Linked DNA regions of Homo sapiens. The protein of the gene in region 2 purifies or fractionates together with the protein of the main gene of each other region. This does not show direct contact. Each region holds a gene or a part of one and is shown on either strand. Other genes may lie near its edges.

Region 1 (3,500 bases), on a different chromosome or scaffold from region 2:
CTCTGTTCACACAAAAACCTATACATGAATGTACATAGCGAGTTTTATGTATAATAGCCCCAACCTGGAAATCATCCAAATGTCCTTCAACAAATAAACTCTGGTACCTCTATACCATGGGATACTGCCCAGCAATAAAAAGGAATAACATATTAATATACAAAACAACCTGGATGGATCTCAGGGGAATCATGGTAGGTTAAACAAAACTCAAAAGGTTATATACCATAGATTCCATTTATATGACATTCTTGAAATAATAATTAGAAAGACAGGGGACAGATCAGTGGTTGCCAGTGCTGTGGCTTGAATGTTTTTGTCCCTCCAAAATTCATGTGTTGGAAACTTATTCCCCAGTGCAACAGTGTTGGGTGGTGGGGTCTTTGGGAAAGTGTTTAGGTTGTGAGGGATCCACCATCAGGAATGAATTCATGTCGCTATAAAAAGGCTTGTGGGAGTGGGTTAACCTCTTTCCTGGCCTTCTGAAGGAAAGTTCATTCCTTTTTGTCCTTCTGCCTTATGCCATGTGAGGACACAGCAAGAAGGCCCTCACCAGACCAAATGCTGGTGCCATGATTTGGACTTACAGCCTCTAGAGCTGTTAGAGAATAAATTTCTTCTATTCTTTATAAACAACCTAGTCTCAGGTGTTACAGCAGCACAAAGTGGACAAAGACACAAGGGGTTGCAGATTGGGTGGGAAGGATGTCAGTGTAGCTATGAAAGGAAGCATGAGGGTGCCTTGCAGTGAAGGAGCAATTCTGTGTCCTGACTGTGGTGGTGGTTCCACAAAGCTACCCATGGTAAGACTGCATTCACAAACACAAACACACACACACACACACACACACACTCACACTCACTACATGCACAACTGGTGCTGTCTGAAGGACCTCTGTGGCTGTGGCACCGAGAATTTTCAGTCTGTGTTATTGTACTATAGTTAAGCAAGATGGAGGATGCTGGGTAATGAATACACAGGATGTCCCTGTGTATTGCCCCCTACTTCCTGTGGATCTATAATTACTTCAAAATAAAAACGTTTTTTTAAAAAATGCACTGGCGGCTGGGTGCAGTGGCTTGCGCCTGTAATCCCAGCACTTTGGGAGGCCAAGGCGGGCAGATCACGAGGTCAGGAGTTCGAAACCAGCCTGGTGAATATGGTGAAACCCCGTCTCTACAAAAAAAATACAAAAATTAGCCGGACGTGGTGGCGTGCACCTGTAGTCCCAGCTACTTGGGAGGCTGAGGCAGGAGAATTGCTGGAACCCAGGAGGTGGAGGTTGCAGTGAGCTGAGATCACGCCACTGCACTCCAGCCTGGGTGACAGAGCGAGACTTTGTCTCAAAAAAAAAAATAGAAATAAATAAATAAATAAATAAATAAATAAATAATGCAGTGGCACTAGAACGGGGGGAAAGGTGCTACTGAATCCACAGCACCTTGTTACTATAGACTTTGCCAACTAAGGAATAAGTAATGGACAGCTATTACCCTGGAGGGTGACGTGAGAGATTTTCTTATTTTTTTTTTGAGACAGAGTCTTGCTCAGTCGCCTGGGCTGGAGTGCAGTGGCACGATCTCGGCTCACTGCAAGCTCCGCCTCTCATGCCATCTCCTGCCTCAGCCTCCCGAGTAGCTGGGACTACAGGAGCCCACCACTACGCCCGGCTAATTTTTTGTATTTTTAGTAGAGACAAGGTTTCACCGTGTTAGCCAGGATGGTCTCGATCTCCTGACCTACACCCGTCTCGGCCTCCCAAAGTGCTGGGATTACAGAAGTGAGCCACCGTGCCCGGCCCCAGAGAGATTTTCTAACCTGAAAAGGGTGCGTACAAAATTATCAAGCACTGGGGATAATGTGGGGCACCCACTATGGAACTTGGGAAATGGGTGTGACCACTTTGGAAACAATTTGGCAGCACCTTGTAAAGTTAAAAATGTGCATACCTTCAGACCCAACAACCCCACTCCCAGGCACCTTGAAACTCTCACACTTTTGCACCAGAAAATAGGCACGAGGATGTTCAAAGCAGTACCATTGCCTCAATCAGTTGTGTAGCAGTTATACCAAAGACACAACACATAGCAGTGAAAAAGAATGAAGTACAACTTCCTGCCACTACACAGGTAAATTTCAATAACAGTGTTGAGCAAGAAAGTCCCAAAGTACACAAAGACATCATTTACATAAACATCAAAGACAAGAAAAAAAGGCAGCATTTAAGGCCACAAGCCCTCATGGCTGACTACAGGATCAAGATGGGCAGCTTTCACATCAGTGACAACCTCTGAGGCAAAGAGACCAGGGTAAGCCCAGAGGAGGCCTCTAGGTACCTGGTGATGATCTATGCCTCAAGTGAGCTAGCGGGTACCCAGTGTTCATTCTATTCTTTAAAATATACAGGCATGAAGTGCACTCTTTTTGTGCACTGGTCTTATGATGTGTGAAAGGATGCATGTTTCAAACAGTTATAATCAACTTTGTAGTTTACTTTTTTTTTTTCTTTTGAGATGGAATCTCACTCTTTCGCCCAGGCTAGAGTGCAGTGGCACAATCTTGGCTCACTGCAACCTCCGCCTCCCAGATTCAAGCGATTCTCCAAGATCAGCCTCCCAAGTAGCTGGGATTACAGGTGTGCGCCAACATGTCCAGCTAATTTTTGTATTTTCAGTAGAGATGGGGTTTCACCATGTTGGCCAGGCTGGTCTTCAACTCCTGACCTCAGGTGATCTGCCTGCCTTGGCCTCCCAAAGTGCTGGGATTATAGGCATGAGCCACTGTGCCCAGCTTGTACTTTACTTTGATCACAGAACAATATCTCATGTTATGACAGGATGACTTTTTTTTTTTTTTTTTTTGAGACACAGCCTCACCCTGTCACCCAGGCTGGAGTGCAGTGGCATGATCTCGGCTCACTGCAACCTCTGAGCCCCAGGCTCAAGTGATCCTCCCGCCTCAGCCTCTCAAGTAGCTGGGACTGCAGGTATGTGCCACCAAGTTCAGCTAATTTTTGTATTTTTTGTAGAGACAGGGTTTCACCATGTTGTCCAAGCTGGTCTTGAACTCCTGAGCCCAAGCGATTGGCCTGCCTTGGCGTCCCAAAGTGCTGGGATTACAGGCATGAGCCAACGCGCCCAGCCAGTAGTGAGCAATTTTAAAATAAACAATAGCATTTTCCAATTTCTGGGCCAAAGCAAACATTTAGCACAAGGCACAAATTTAATAAGAATTATCTGGCCATACTACTATCCTTAGGCCTTTATATGCCCAGAATTAACAAATAAATTGGCCAGGTGCAGTGGCTCACGCCTGTAATCCCAACACTTTGGGAGGCCGAGGCAGGTGGATCACTTAAGTTCAGGAGCTTGAGACCAGCCTGGCCAACATGGTGAAACCCCATCTCTACTAAAAATACAAAAATTAGCCAGGCGTGGTAGCAGGCACCTGTAATTCCAGCTACTTGGGAGGCTGAGGCAGGAGAATCGTTTGAACCTGG
Region 2 (3,500 bases):
AGTTCTCTCCCACCTCGTCTTTTTCCTTGGCTGACCAAACACAAGTTGAACTGAGAGTCTGAGTTTGAATCAAGTTCAAGGGGAAGTTCATGGAGCGTCCCCTTTGTGCTTCCTGGGAGGGCTCCCGATCAGTCATGTTTCGGGTGATTCTGGGATGCTGATTCAGAATGTGGTAGGATTGGAAAATGGATTGGTGACTGTGAAAAGTCAAGTAAGGGGAAAAGCATATGGGGAGGGAAGTCAGAACTTTTTCCCAGCTTGGGGGATACTCTTCTTACTTTCAGAGGCTGCCTGCAGGGTCAGTCCAAGCCATCCGCCTCCCTGTCCTAGAAAAGCCTTCTGTTTAAAAGCATCACAGAGCTCGTTCATGGACTGTCCTACGAGTGTGCTCTTTTTCCTTGAGTTGGCTAATGAAGAATTCCTTTCTTTTTCCTTAGAGATATAGAAAAAGAAAGGAAGAAGGGTAGGAAGGATGGAGAGGGGAAACTATGTTTTGGAAAAAACTAGACTTTTAATCAATAAGACAGGCAGACTCCTGGCTTATATAGATCATGGCTTCTTTGCTGAAAAGTTTGTTTCTGTATCATACAGTCAGAAATGCTTATGTTTGAGGGGCTTCCAGTAGTGACTATTACATGCTGCAGCAAATTATCCTCCCAGATTTCTCAGGGTTCCTGTGAACAACTGTATAGAAGAAATTTGTACACGTATATAGTATTCATATTGCTAGACCCAACCTGAGTGTAATTGAGTCTCCTATAAGCACTTTTGCTGATTAGCTTCTTATTCTGATAAACCTTGGTAAACCCGTGAAAAGAGAGAGTGATGAAAAGAGAGAGGATGGATGGCTGGGTGCAGTGGCTCACGCTTGTAATTCCAGCACTTTGGGAGGCCGAGGTGGGTGGATCACCTGTGGCCAACATAGTGAAACCCCGTCTCTACTAAAAATACAAAATTAGCTGGGCGTGGTGGCACACGCCTGTAGTCCCAGCTACTCAGGAGGCTGAGGCAGGAGAATCACTTGAACCTGGGAGGCAGAGGTTGCAGTGAGCCGAGATCGTGCCATTGCATTCCAGCCTGGGCGACAAGAGTGAAACTCCACCTCAAAAAAAATAAAAAATAAAAAAATTAGCCAGGCCTGGTGGCTTACACCTGTATTCCCAGCTACTTAGGAGGCTGAGGCAGGAGGATCACTTGAGCCCAGAAGTTTGAGGCTGCAGGGAGTTATGATCGCACCACTGTACTTCAGCCTAGGCAACAGAGTGAAAGCCCATCTCTTAAAGAAGTCTCAGGTAGTGTAAACAGCTTTGGAAAGGCTCTGCATGTTGATCTGAAGCACTGCATGACACCGGAGCATAAGCACTGACAAACAGTGTTCTTCGGGATTTTGAGAGGAAACACAGCAGCCAAGCTTCTGTGCCTCCTTTTCTGGCCACTGGGAACTCTAAAAAGTTACTTTCTGGCCAGGCGCGGTGGCTCACGCCTGTAATCCCAGCACTTTGGGAGGCTGAGGCGGGTGGATCACAAGGTCAGGAGTTCGAGACCAGCCTGGCTAACATGGTGAAACCCCGTCTCTACTAAAAATATAAAAACTAGCTGGGCATGTTGGCATGCACCGTAATCCCAGCTACTTGGGAGGCTGAGGCAGGAGAATCACTTGAACCCAGGAGCTGGAGATTGCAGTGAGCCGAGATCGCGCCACTGCACTCCAGCCTGGGCGACAGAGCAAGACTCCATCTCAAAAAAAAAAAAAAAAAAATTGTTATTTCCCTCCTTCTTTGCTGGGTTTCAGGAATTCATCTGGGTCATTTAGGGGAAATTTCTGCAGTTCCATGGTGATTTTAATCACTAAATATCAACTAAAAATCAACATCCCTAAAAATGTGGTTACATAATAACAGAACTCACAGAAAGTGAGAAAGAGTAGCTTAGGTAGGTCGTGACATGCAGCAACAAGGAGTCAGGCAGTCCTAGAGCCAAATCACTTAATTTTAATGAGCTTGAGTTGACCTCATCTATAAAGTGGAGAAAATCATGCCTGGTTGATAAGATTAGTGATAATGCAGCAAAGAGCTTATCAGTGCATTGCCTGGCACTGAATGGTGGCCCAGAGAAACTGTAACTGCTGGTATCTCTCAGCCAGAAAGAAAATAGAAGGCGGAATTTCTGGCCTGATTTGGAGGGGTAGGGAGGGGGCAGAGGACGTCCTTGTCTATGTAAACTGAGTGTGCAGTCCAGGAAGAGAAGGTCTCGTTGTCTTTGTGGGGGCCCAGCATAATCAGGGTGCTCTTATTGTTTTGAACAGACACCAAATGACAGGGCTGTCATATAGCTCTGAGCTCGGATCCTTAGGTCTTTCTTACTCTGAAAGCTGTAGAAGTGGGAGAGGACCTTAGCTTTTCTCTCGAAGTCCCGGTGACGTCCCGGCAGATAGATGTAGGGTGTTGCGTTCTCCTGAAGGTGGGGCATTGTGATGCTGGGGCACTGGTGGGAAGTCAGAGTTTAGTAGACATTCAGCTGTTTTTTTGTTTTGTTTTTGTTTTGAAACGGAGTCTCGCTCTATAGCCCAGGCTGGAGTGCAATGGCGTGATCTCGGCTCACTGCAACCTCTGCCTTCTGGGTTCAAGCGATTCTCCTGCCTCAGCCTCCTGAGTAGCTGGGGTTACAGGTGCCCGCCACTACGCCCAGCTAATTTTTGTATTTTTAGTAGAGACGGAATTTCACTATATTGGTCAGGCTAGTCTCGAACTCCCGACCTCAGGTGATCCGCCCGCCTCGGCCTCCCAAAGTGCTGGGATTATAGGCATGAGCCACTGTGCCTGGCCGACATTCAGCTGTTAATCCTGGCTTTGGGTAAATGACTCAACTGTTCTGGACCTCTTTTTTTTTTTTTCTTTCTAACAAAATGAAAGATTTCCTCAGCATTTGCAGACTCTAGTATAAATGAGTGAAGTGGGCAAGGAGGAGGAAACAGGGCAACAGGAATGAGGATAAGTGACATTTGACCCCTGGCCTCTCCCGTTCTGCTGGGGAGAATGGTAGGGACTGTGCAAACACAATGTATTTTCTATCTAAAAGGGAACTGCTGCATAGCTGAAAATCTGGATTTTTCTGTGAAATATCCCAAAACTTAGATGCAGATTTTAAAAAATACTGCATGTGACTAACAAAACATTGTTTGGGCAAAGTCAGTGGGTGGGCCACCAATTTGCAACCTCTGGCCTGTGATTTCCAACTAACAATAAAAATTTTATGATGATTTGATCAGCTGTGGTACCATATCTCTGTCAAGGAAGAGCAAAGATAGCTCATTCTTCCAAAAGGGCTCTGTGTATAATTATTAGTAACAACGTGGGAAGCCTTAATTATAATATTTTGTAATATGTTTTTCTTTTTAGTTGTGTTTCTAAAGCATTTAATATACTCTATCATTTGATAACCACAACGATGGTTATGATAAATATTATTCCACTTTTCATTTTATGCATGAGACGGTTTAG
Region 3 (3,177 bases), on a different chromosome or scaffold from region 2:
CTGCCATTTTTGTAGTTTTCCACGGTAGAGATCTGTTTCCTCAGATAAAACATTTGCCCAAACACAGAATTCTGAGATTTAATACATTATAGGATTCTTGGATTTAGCACCTTTTAGATAAGAATGGTAATGGAATGTTCCATTAAAGTAGAGAAACATGAGTGAAATACATGTTGAGGTTAGGATTTAACATTTATCTGGTCCTTTCCCACCCTGTATCCCCCAAAAAACCCAAATGAGTTCACTTACAATGTTGGATGGGTTTCTCCTTTGACTTCTTTTGAAATGTCTCGTACTGTAGCTGACAGACTTCCCTTAGGAGATGGGTGGAGCTTCTTCCACCCAAACTGTGAGGATCCCAATAATGGAATCACTCTGTAGGCTAAGTGGTGTCTCAGACCCACCTCCTACTTAAGCCGAGCCTGCCAGGCAGGCATCTCGAGGCTCCAAACCCACCAGAGGAGGCCCCTGATTTTAGCCCTCAGCATGACCGTGGCTGCCTCCACCAAGCCTCCATAGTTTCCAGGCACCGTGTTATGGTTCGTAACTGCTGCCCTGTGTTAGGCAGCTGCCGTTGCATTTTAATTCCAGCCCAAATGTAAGAGTCTCTCCTTTTTTTTAATGGATGTTCCAAAACAGTCAGAGCCTCTTCACATTTTATATCATTTTACGTGTTTTTAGAAAAGGACCAGTGAAGCCTACCTGTGTAGTATAGTACTCCGAGAGGCAGTTGGCTCTCAGGGAAGTCAGAGGAAGTTTTACTGTTGCCAAAAAAGTGGTGATTGTTTTGGCTAAGAGGCCTTAAGTGCTAAAATGTCAAAGCATTATAGTATGGGTTCAAATCCTAGTGCTGGCACTCATTAGCTGTCAGTCTTTAGGCAGGTTATGAATCTGAGTTTCAAGTTACTCATCTCTAAAATGGTTGTCTCTACCTCCAGGGCTGCGGTGCACACCTCCAGGGCCCCATTCATATTGTATTTGATGTGAATAGCGCCCTCTGCTGTTGTGCAGTGTACAACTGAGGACAATTCCACCACGTGCTAGACCTTCCATCTAATATGAGCCCAGATACTCTCTCCGGGGCTGCTCTTGCTAAATAACAGAGCTTCCATAGTTTCCCCTGGATGCCTGGCCACATCCAGTTTCCTGTAGAAGATCACATCTTGTTGATCTGCTGATATAATACAAAACGAGAACACAAATGGTAGAAAACAAACAACAAAAACTGTTTCAGATCCCAACAATTCAAAAAGGAGACGTCTCAGAAAGCAAGAGGAGGCCTGGACTGTGCCAGATTTCAGTTGAGCCTCTGAGGTGAGCTCTGACATCCACACCACTTAAAGGCAGGCAAGTCCAGCCTGGGGAATGGACTCCAGGTTTTGAGTAGGACCGGGGGAGTCTCTGAGCTTAACCAGCAAGCCGCAGATAAAACAGGTTGCACTGAGTTGGGGGCCTTCCCAAGCCAGAGCATCTGTGGCAGTTGGGTGTGTCACCAAATCCAATTAGCCGCCCAATTCAGAAATAACTGTCTAAAAGAAAAAAAGAAATCCTTCACTTTACAGCAGTGTGTGTCCAGAGTTCCATGTCAGCAGGAGCCAATGGATTTAATTTGCACATTTTAAAAACTGCCCATGATGTGTCCACTTCAAGTAGTTTAGCTGGAAGGAAGTCTTCCCGAGTTGTAGAAATCACCTACTCCCTTTGAAGAAGTTTAATATTTGCCTTGAAAATCACACGCACGTACACAGAGGTTTCTTTCCAATGCTGAAAAGTCCTGATTAGAAAAATCTATCCATGTTGCTGATTAAAAGAAGACTAAATATGCCACATCCTCGGTGTGCCAATCTTGCAGTTTCTTTTCTTAAGTTTTAATGCTAGACATACTATGTGTGTCCTCGCTAAGAAGCTGATTACTCATTCATTGATTCGACAAGTATCTGTTGAGCACCAACTAAAATCTGGGTACACAACACAGGAAAAAGGTCTTTGCTCTTGTGGAGACTATGTCTGACTCTGCCTGGGAAGGATAAAATAATGATCACAAATAACTAAAAGCCCAAAGGAGAGCTCTGAAGGAGAAGAACGTGGTTCTTTTCCAGGGTAGTACAAAGGAGTCTGGTTTGGTATAAAAGGAGACAGCACTGTTCTGAGAAAAGGATGCTCGAGTAGAGCTAGAAAGGAGGAGAATGTCCTTGGCAGAGGGGACACGGAAGAACTGGAGGCCACAGAGGAGCTGGAGGCCACAGAGAATGGGAGGCTGGCAGAGGAGGTAAGAGGGACCAGATCCCTTGGGGCCTTGAGGGCCACAGTACTGATTTCCATCTTTGTCTTCAGAGTCATACAAAACTAGAACTCCTTTGAGCAGTGGGATGACAGGATTCAAGTTCCCTTTTTAACAGATCACTTGGGCTCTGAATAGGGAACCTATTTGAAGGGGATATCTATTATTAGGAGATTAGAATAGCTGAGGCGAGTGATGGTAGAGAGAAGTGGAGGGATTCCAGAGCCTCCGGGACCTAACACAGATGGGTCTTAAGGATAGATTGAATATAGGGGAAGGAGAGGGGAGGGTCAGCAGGGATAGCCCCTAAGGTGCAATGCCATTCCTCTAGATAGGGTGGCGGTTGGCCAGGTGGGCGAGGTATGGGGAGGGGGACAGTCATAGGTTTCCTCGAGCCACAGGATGGATGGAGCTGGAGTCTTGGGGTGCAGTGAGGGCTGAAAATGCAGGCGGAATGGTCATTGGCACAGAGGTGGTGAAGGAGATTTTCTAAGGAAGAGGCAAGAGTGAAGGGAGAAATGGGGCTGGGTCTGAACCCTGAGGAACTTAGTGGGAAACCAGGAGAATGAGGTGGGAAAGAACCAAGAGAAAAGCTGCTTCAGGGAGTGGGGGTGGTCCCAACATCCGGGCTGCAAGAGCTCAGGCATGATGAGGACTAGATGGAGTGACTCTCGGTCACCAGGGGACACAGGCCTGTGGGAGTAGGACGCTGACCCTTGTCAGCTGAGGAGTGAGGAGGGGACACCCAGTGCAGAAGATTCTTCCAAGGAGTCTGGCTGTGAAGCCCCCCTCTCTGGAGGACTCCCATCTGTGAGGTGACCCAGAGGGTCTTGTGTAGAACAAGTGCTCCACACCAGTCACCTACAGTCTTGGAATGAGGCAGGAAATAATTAGGT
Region 4 (4,189 bases), on a different chromosome or scaffold from region 2:
TTCTCCTGCCTCAGTCTCCCGAGTAGCTGGGACTACAGGCGCCCGCCACCACGCCCGGCTAATTTTTTGTTTGTTTGTTTGTTTGTATTTTTAGTAGAGACGGGGTTTCACCGTGTTAGCCAGGATGGTCTCAATCTCCTGACCTCGTGATCCACCCGCCTGGACTTCCCAAAGTGCTGGGGTTAACAGGCGTGAGCCACCGCGCCCGGCCTGGGTGATGGTTTTAATGCACGGCTCTTACCTGAGAACTTAGGGTGCTAAGCTTTAATTACACTTTTCCATGGTTGCAACAAGCTGCGTTTTCTAAAGCTCTCTTCCTGGACTGGGGAGGCCTTTGGGGCAGGAGTAAAACTTCCTCATTTGCTCCAAGAGTGCTGCTTTCTGGGCTAGGAAGGCGCTGAGACTAGCAGCTGGCTGGACTTCCTGCTGTTAGTTTCATCAGCTTTCTTTTCCCCTGGGAATCCCCGGCAGGCCGCCCCCTTCCCCATCTGAGTGGCGATGCTCAGGTAGCCTCCCCCATTGGCAGGACTCTGCCGCCCCCAGGCTTGCCCACCCTGCATGCTCCAACCCCAGTGTGTTCACTGGAAAGGCCGCTGTCCTGCGCAGAGCTGGTGGCGGACGTGCCTTGCTCTACTGAAGTCCACATCCTAGGGCAGGTGATGAGCAGGAGGGTATAGACCACCAGAGACCCCTGAGGTGTCACCTAAGCAGGGACTTGATGGGAGTGAGCCTCGTGGGGACTCGGGGAGGCTCATCCAAGTGGAGCACAGTGGAGGGGTCGTGTTTGGAGCTGGGTGACCTGAGGGCCCGGGAGGTTGTGGATGGTCTGGGCCAAGTACTGTTCACTTGTTCACCTGGCAGGTCTGAGTTCATGAGTTTGAAGGTAGCCCTACGCGGAGCTAGGAAAAACTGCAAAATGGACTTGTTTCCCTCTGGGGCCTTGAGGGATCCTTGGTTGATAGGGATAGCCAGGCTGGAGCCGATTTAACCTGTGAGTCCCAAATAACCTGGATACACTCTGTCGACTCCTGGGCTCTCCCTCCGGCAGCCCAGTGATGTTTCAAAGCCCAAGGTCCCCACCTCATGTGACAGGCTGAGGATGGCAGACACTTCCCACAAAAGTGGACCTAGCCCTGAACACACACAGCCGGGGGACTTGTTGAGTTTGCACTGAGCTTCCCTCCAAATGAGGAAGGGGGCGTTTTTATGGTGTTGAGTCGCTAAGCCCCGCTCTCCCTAGCTTCCTGTGCTCTCTGGGGACAAAGGTGGGGGGGCCCCTGGAACCCTCTGTGGGCTGGCAGTGTGCTTCCTGCACCCAGCGCCAGCCCGCCCTGGGGAGGGGCTGAACCCGCCCTGCTCGTGATAAGGCACAAGCAAGGGCTGCCCTGAAGGAAGCTCCAAAGAGAAAGGAGGGCAGGAAGCCCACGGCCCACAGGGGTGTAGCCCGAGACCCACCTGCAGCCCCCAGCCCTTGCCAGGAAAGGTAAGCTCAGGCCTCACTGGGACCCTGGGCCCTTCTCTTCCTTATCCTCCTGCAGCCTCTGCCCAGCCTGCCTCTCGCCATGCGGCAGCCTGAACTTTCCACCTCCCCGGAGAGGCTTTGGCTGGTTTGTGATGTTGGCATCTGAGCTGTGGGCCAGGATCGGAACTACTTCCTGGCCTGGGTACGAAGCCATGGCCAGAGTGGGCAGCTGCCCCTGAGGGTCTGGGAGTGAGCTGTGGGCTGGCATTGAGCACGGTGGTCCTGAGTGAGCCCCTTCTTACCCGGCCTCAGTCTGCCCGCCTGTAGGATGGGAGCGGATTGGACTACATGGTCTCTGAGGGCCCTCGCGGCTCAAGCGCCAGCGCTGGAGAGAGAGTCTGAGGGTACCACGGGCGTGCTGGCCTGGGTGCTCACTCCCGCCCTCCTTCATGAGCGGCTTTCCTCTGGGTGTGTCCAGGGCATCACAGAGCTCTTCTGCCCAAACCCGGAGGCCTACCAGGGCCTGCCCACCTTGCCTCCTTCCACACTCTCTGTAGCAGCAGCCGCAGCCATGGCGGGGATGAAGACAGCCTCCGGGGACTACATCGACTCGTCATGGGAGCTGCGGGTGTTTGTGGGAGAGGAGGACCCAGAGGCCGAGTCGGTCACCCTGCGGGTCACTGGGGAGTCGCACATCGGCGGGGTGCTCCTGAAGATTGTGGAGCAGATCAGTGAGTGTCCGCTGCCCGCTTGCTGAACTCGGCACCATGGGCGGCCGCCACGGGTGTCTCTGGGCACTTCCGGGCCATCCCTGCTGCTCAGCTCCCGATAATGGTGTCACGGTGACTCAGGCATTAGCTTAATCATTTGGTTCCAAAAAAGACATTTCCCCAACTTCCTCTCCCTCCCACCCTCTTCCCTCCCTCCCTTCTGCTGCAGCTGGTCTGCTAAGGATCAGACGCAGCCACAATCCTCCATTCAGCCACCAATAGGGGCAGAAGGAGTGGTCTTGTCTGGGCCGAGGCTGAAGTCACATTGCTGAGGTCTGAGGGGGTCTAGGTGACCCAGGGGCCTGCCCCCACGCTCCCTCCCCTTGGCGGAAGCTTTGAGCAGGTTGGTGACAGGCCCAGCCTGGGTGGGAAGGCCCTGCCCCCACAGGAAGTTACAGCAGAGCAGCTGTGGTATCAGTCATGGAGGACCACGGGGCTAGTGACACGGGGGCTCCTCATCTTCCTTCCCTGCCGGGGGTGGGGGCTACCCCTTCCTGAGAGAGCAGCAGGAAGACCCCGATAGGCAGAGCCGGAAGACAGGCCCACCACAGTCCCGGCCAAGAGCCTGGGCCTGGGCTGCCAGTGGGTGGGGGGTGGGTGATGGTGGGGAGGCTTCCTCAGACCCCGCCAGGCCACCATGTGCAGCACAGGAGGAGGTCAGTCCGACTGTGGAGAGGATAGGGTCCAGAACGGCCCGGCCACAAGACTGAGGCTGTGAGGGGAGCTGCCAGGGGCAGGGCCCGGAGCAGCTGTGAGAATAGAAGTGAGGAACAGAGAGAGGGTGGTGAAGACCTGGGTGGCCCCAGGGCACGGCATGAGGGTAACGCAGGAGGCCTTAACCTGGAGTCAGACAGACCCCGCTGCTCTACCCGCTGCTGGGCACCCCAGGGCAAGTTCCTTTAGCTCTGTGTTCCCTGTGGTGGGGATACTGTCACTCCTAAGCACATCAGCTCTGTCTACTGATGCTCAGCCTGGCCGCCCCGGGCCAGTCCCTGGCCTCCTGGAGCAGCAGCGGGTGAGACTGACCCATGGGGGCTGCGTGCCGGCTGCCGCACAGAGGGCGCTATCATGGGGGCCTGGAGCCAGAGGAGGGGGCTGCCCCGAGCCCAGGATGGGGATAACCCCAGGAGAAGTCCTGAGAGGTGGCCTCAGCAGGGAGGAGCAAGGTGGTGGCGCTGGGACTCGGAGGGCTGTGAATTAGGGCTCTCGGCTGGTGAGGATGCTGGGAGCGTGACCAGAAATGAGGCTGGCTGGTGCCTGGCCAGCTCTGCATGGCCCCGAAGGCCTCCAGAAGGGGTCTAGACTTTCTTCTGGAGGGGAAGGTGGCCACCGAAGGGTTCTCAGCAGGAGGCTGTCCTGCTAAGGTCAGCAGCAAGGCGAAAGGCTGGTGGCGGCAGGCCCCTGAGGAGGCTGTGGTCCTGGTTAGAGACACCAGGGCCTCCTAAGGCCGGGCAGGGAGGATGGAGAGGAGGGTGGATTTTAGAGGTGGGATTGGCATTGATTACATGTGGTGGCTAGAAGAGAAAGGGAGGATGCCTGGGCCTTTGGCGCGAGTCCGTGTCCCCCAGCCCTGAGAGGTGGTGTAGGGAGCTGGTGAGGAGGGGGAGCTGGCTAGGAGAGGGCACCTCTGTGCACAGCGAGTCTGAGCTGAGCTCCAAAAGCCGAGACCAGGAGTCATGGTGCTTACAGTCCCAGTGTCAGCCACTCGGCCACAGGAACAGAGGGTTCTGGAAAGGAGGAAGCCGGTGGACAGGCCCCTCAGCTGGCAGCACATGGGTTTCTGGCTGGGGGCCCAGGGCAGGGTCTGGGCCGAGGGCCACGCATGGGGAGGCAGCAGAAAATGGCAACTGAAACCACAGAATAGGGAGACCCAGTAAGGGGACCTGGCCGAGGCAGGAGAAGAGGGTCCCAGGCCGAACCTGGGGAAAGGACAAGGTAAGGGGCCGGTCAGGAGAGG

What was found.
Region 1: the proteins of PLEKHA2 (region 2) and PRPSAP2 purify together in Homo sapiens (affinity purification with mass spectrometry, with the first as the bait; one large-scale study listed by BioGRID). This does not show direct contact.
Region 3: the proteins of PLEKHA2 (region 2) and RFTN1 purify together in Homo sapiens (affinity purification with mass spectrometry, with the first as the bait; one large-scale study listed by BioGRID). This does not show direct contact.
Region 4: the proteins of PLEKHA2 (region 2) and FERMT3 purify together in Homo sapiens (affinity purification with mass spectrometry, with the first as the bait; one large-scale study listed by BioGRID). This does not show direct contact.

What each region holds. Positions count from the first base shown.
Region 1 is NC_000017.11:18,924,131-18,927,630, reverse strand, and holds part of PRPSAP2 (phosphoribosyl pyrophosphate synthase-associated protein 2), read right to left. Parts: intron 1-3,500. UniProt on the Homo sapiens protein: Seems to play a negative regulatory role in 5-phosphoribose 1-diphosphate synthesis.
Region 2 is NC_000008.11:38,946,346-38,949,845, forward strand, and holds part of PLEKHA2 (pleckstrin homology domain-containing family A member 2), read left to right. Parts: intron 1-3,500. UniProt on the Homo sapiens protein: Binds specifically to phosphatidylinositol 3,4-diphosphate (PtdIns3,4P2), but not to other phosphoinositides. May recruit other proteins to the plasma membrane.
Region 3 is NC_000003.12:16,318,523-16,321,699, forward strand, and holds part of RFTN1 (raftlin), read right to left. Parts: exon of another isoform or gene 939-3,177; intron 1-938. UniProt on the Homo sapiens protein: Involved in protein trafficking via association with clathrin and AP2 complex.
Region 4 is NC_000011.10:64,205,332-64,209,520, forward strand, and holds the start of FERMT3 (fermitin family homolog 3 short isoform), read left to right. Parts: upstream 1-1,389; 5' UTR 1,390-1,483; intron 1,484-1,538; exon of another isoform or gene 1,539-1,664; intron 1,665-2,019; 5' UTR 2,020-2,033; coding exon 2,034-2,193; intron 2,194-2,374; exon of another isoform or gene 2,375-2,575; intron 2,576-4,189. UniProt on the Homo sapiens protein: Plays a central role in cell adhesion in hematopoietic cells. Acts by activating the integrin beta-1-3 (ITGB1, ITGB2 and ITGB3). Required for integrin-mediated platelet adhesion and leukocyte adhesion to endothelial cells.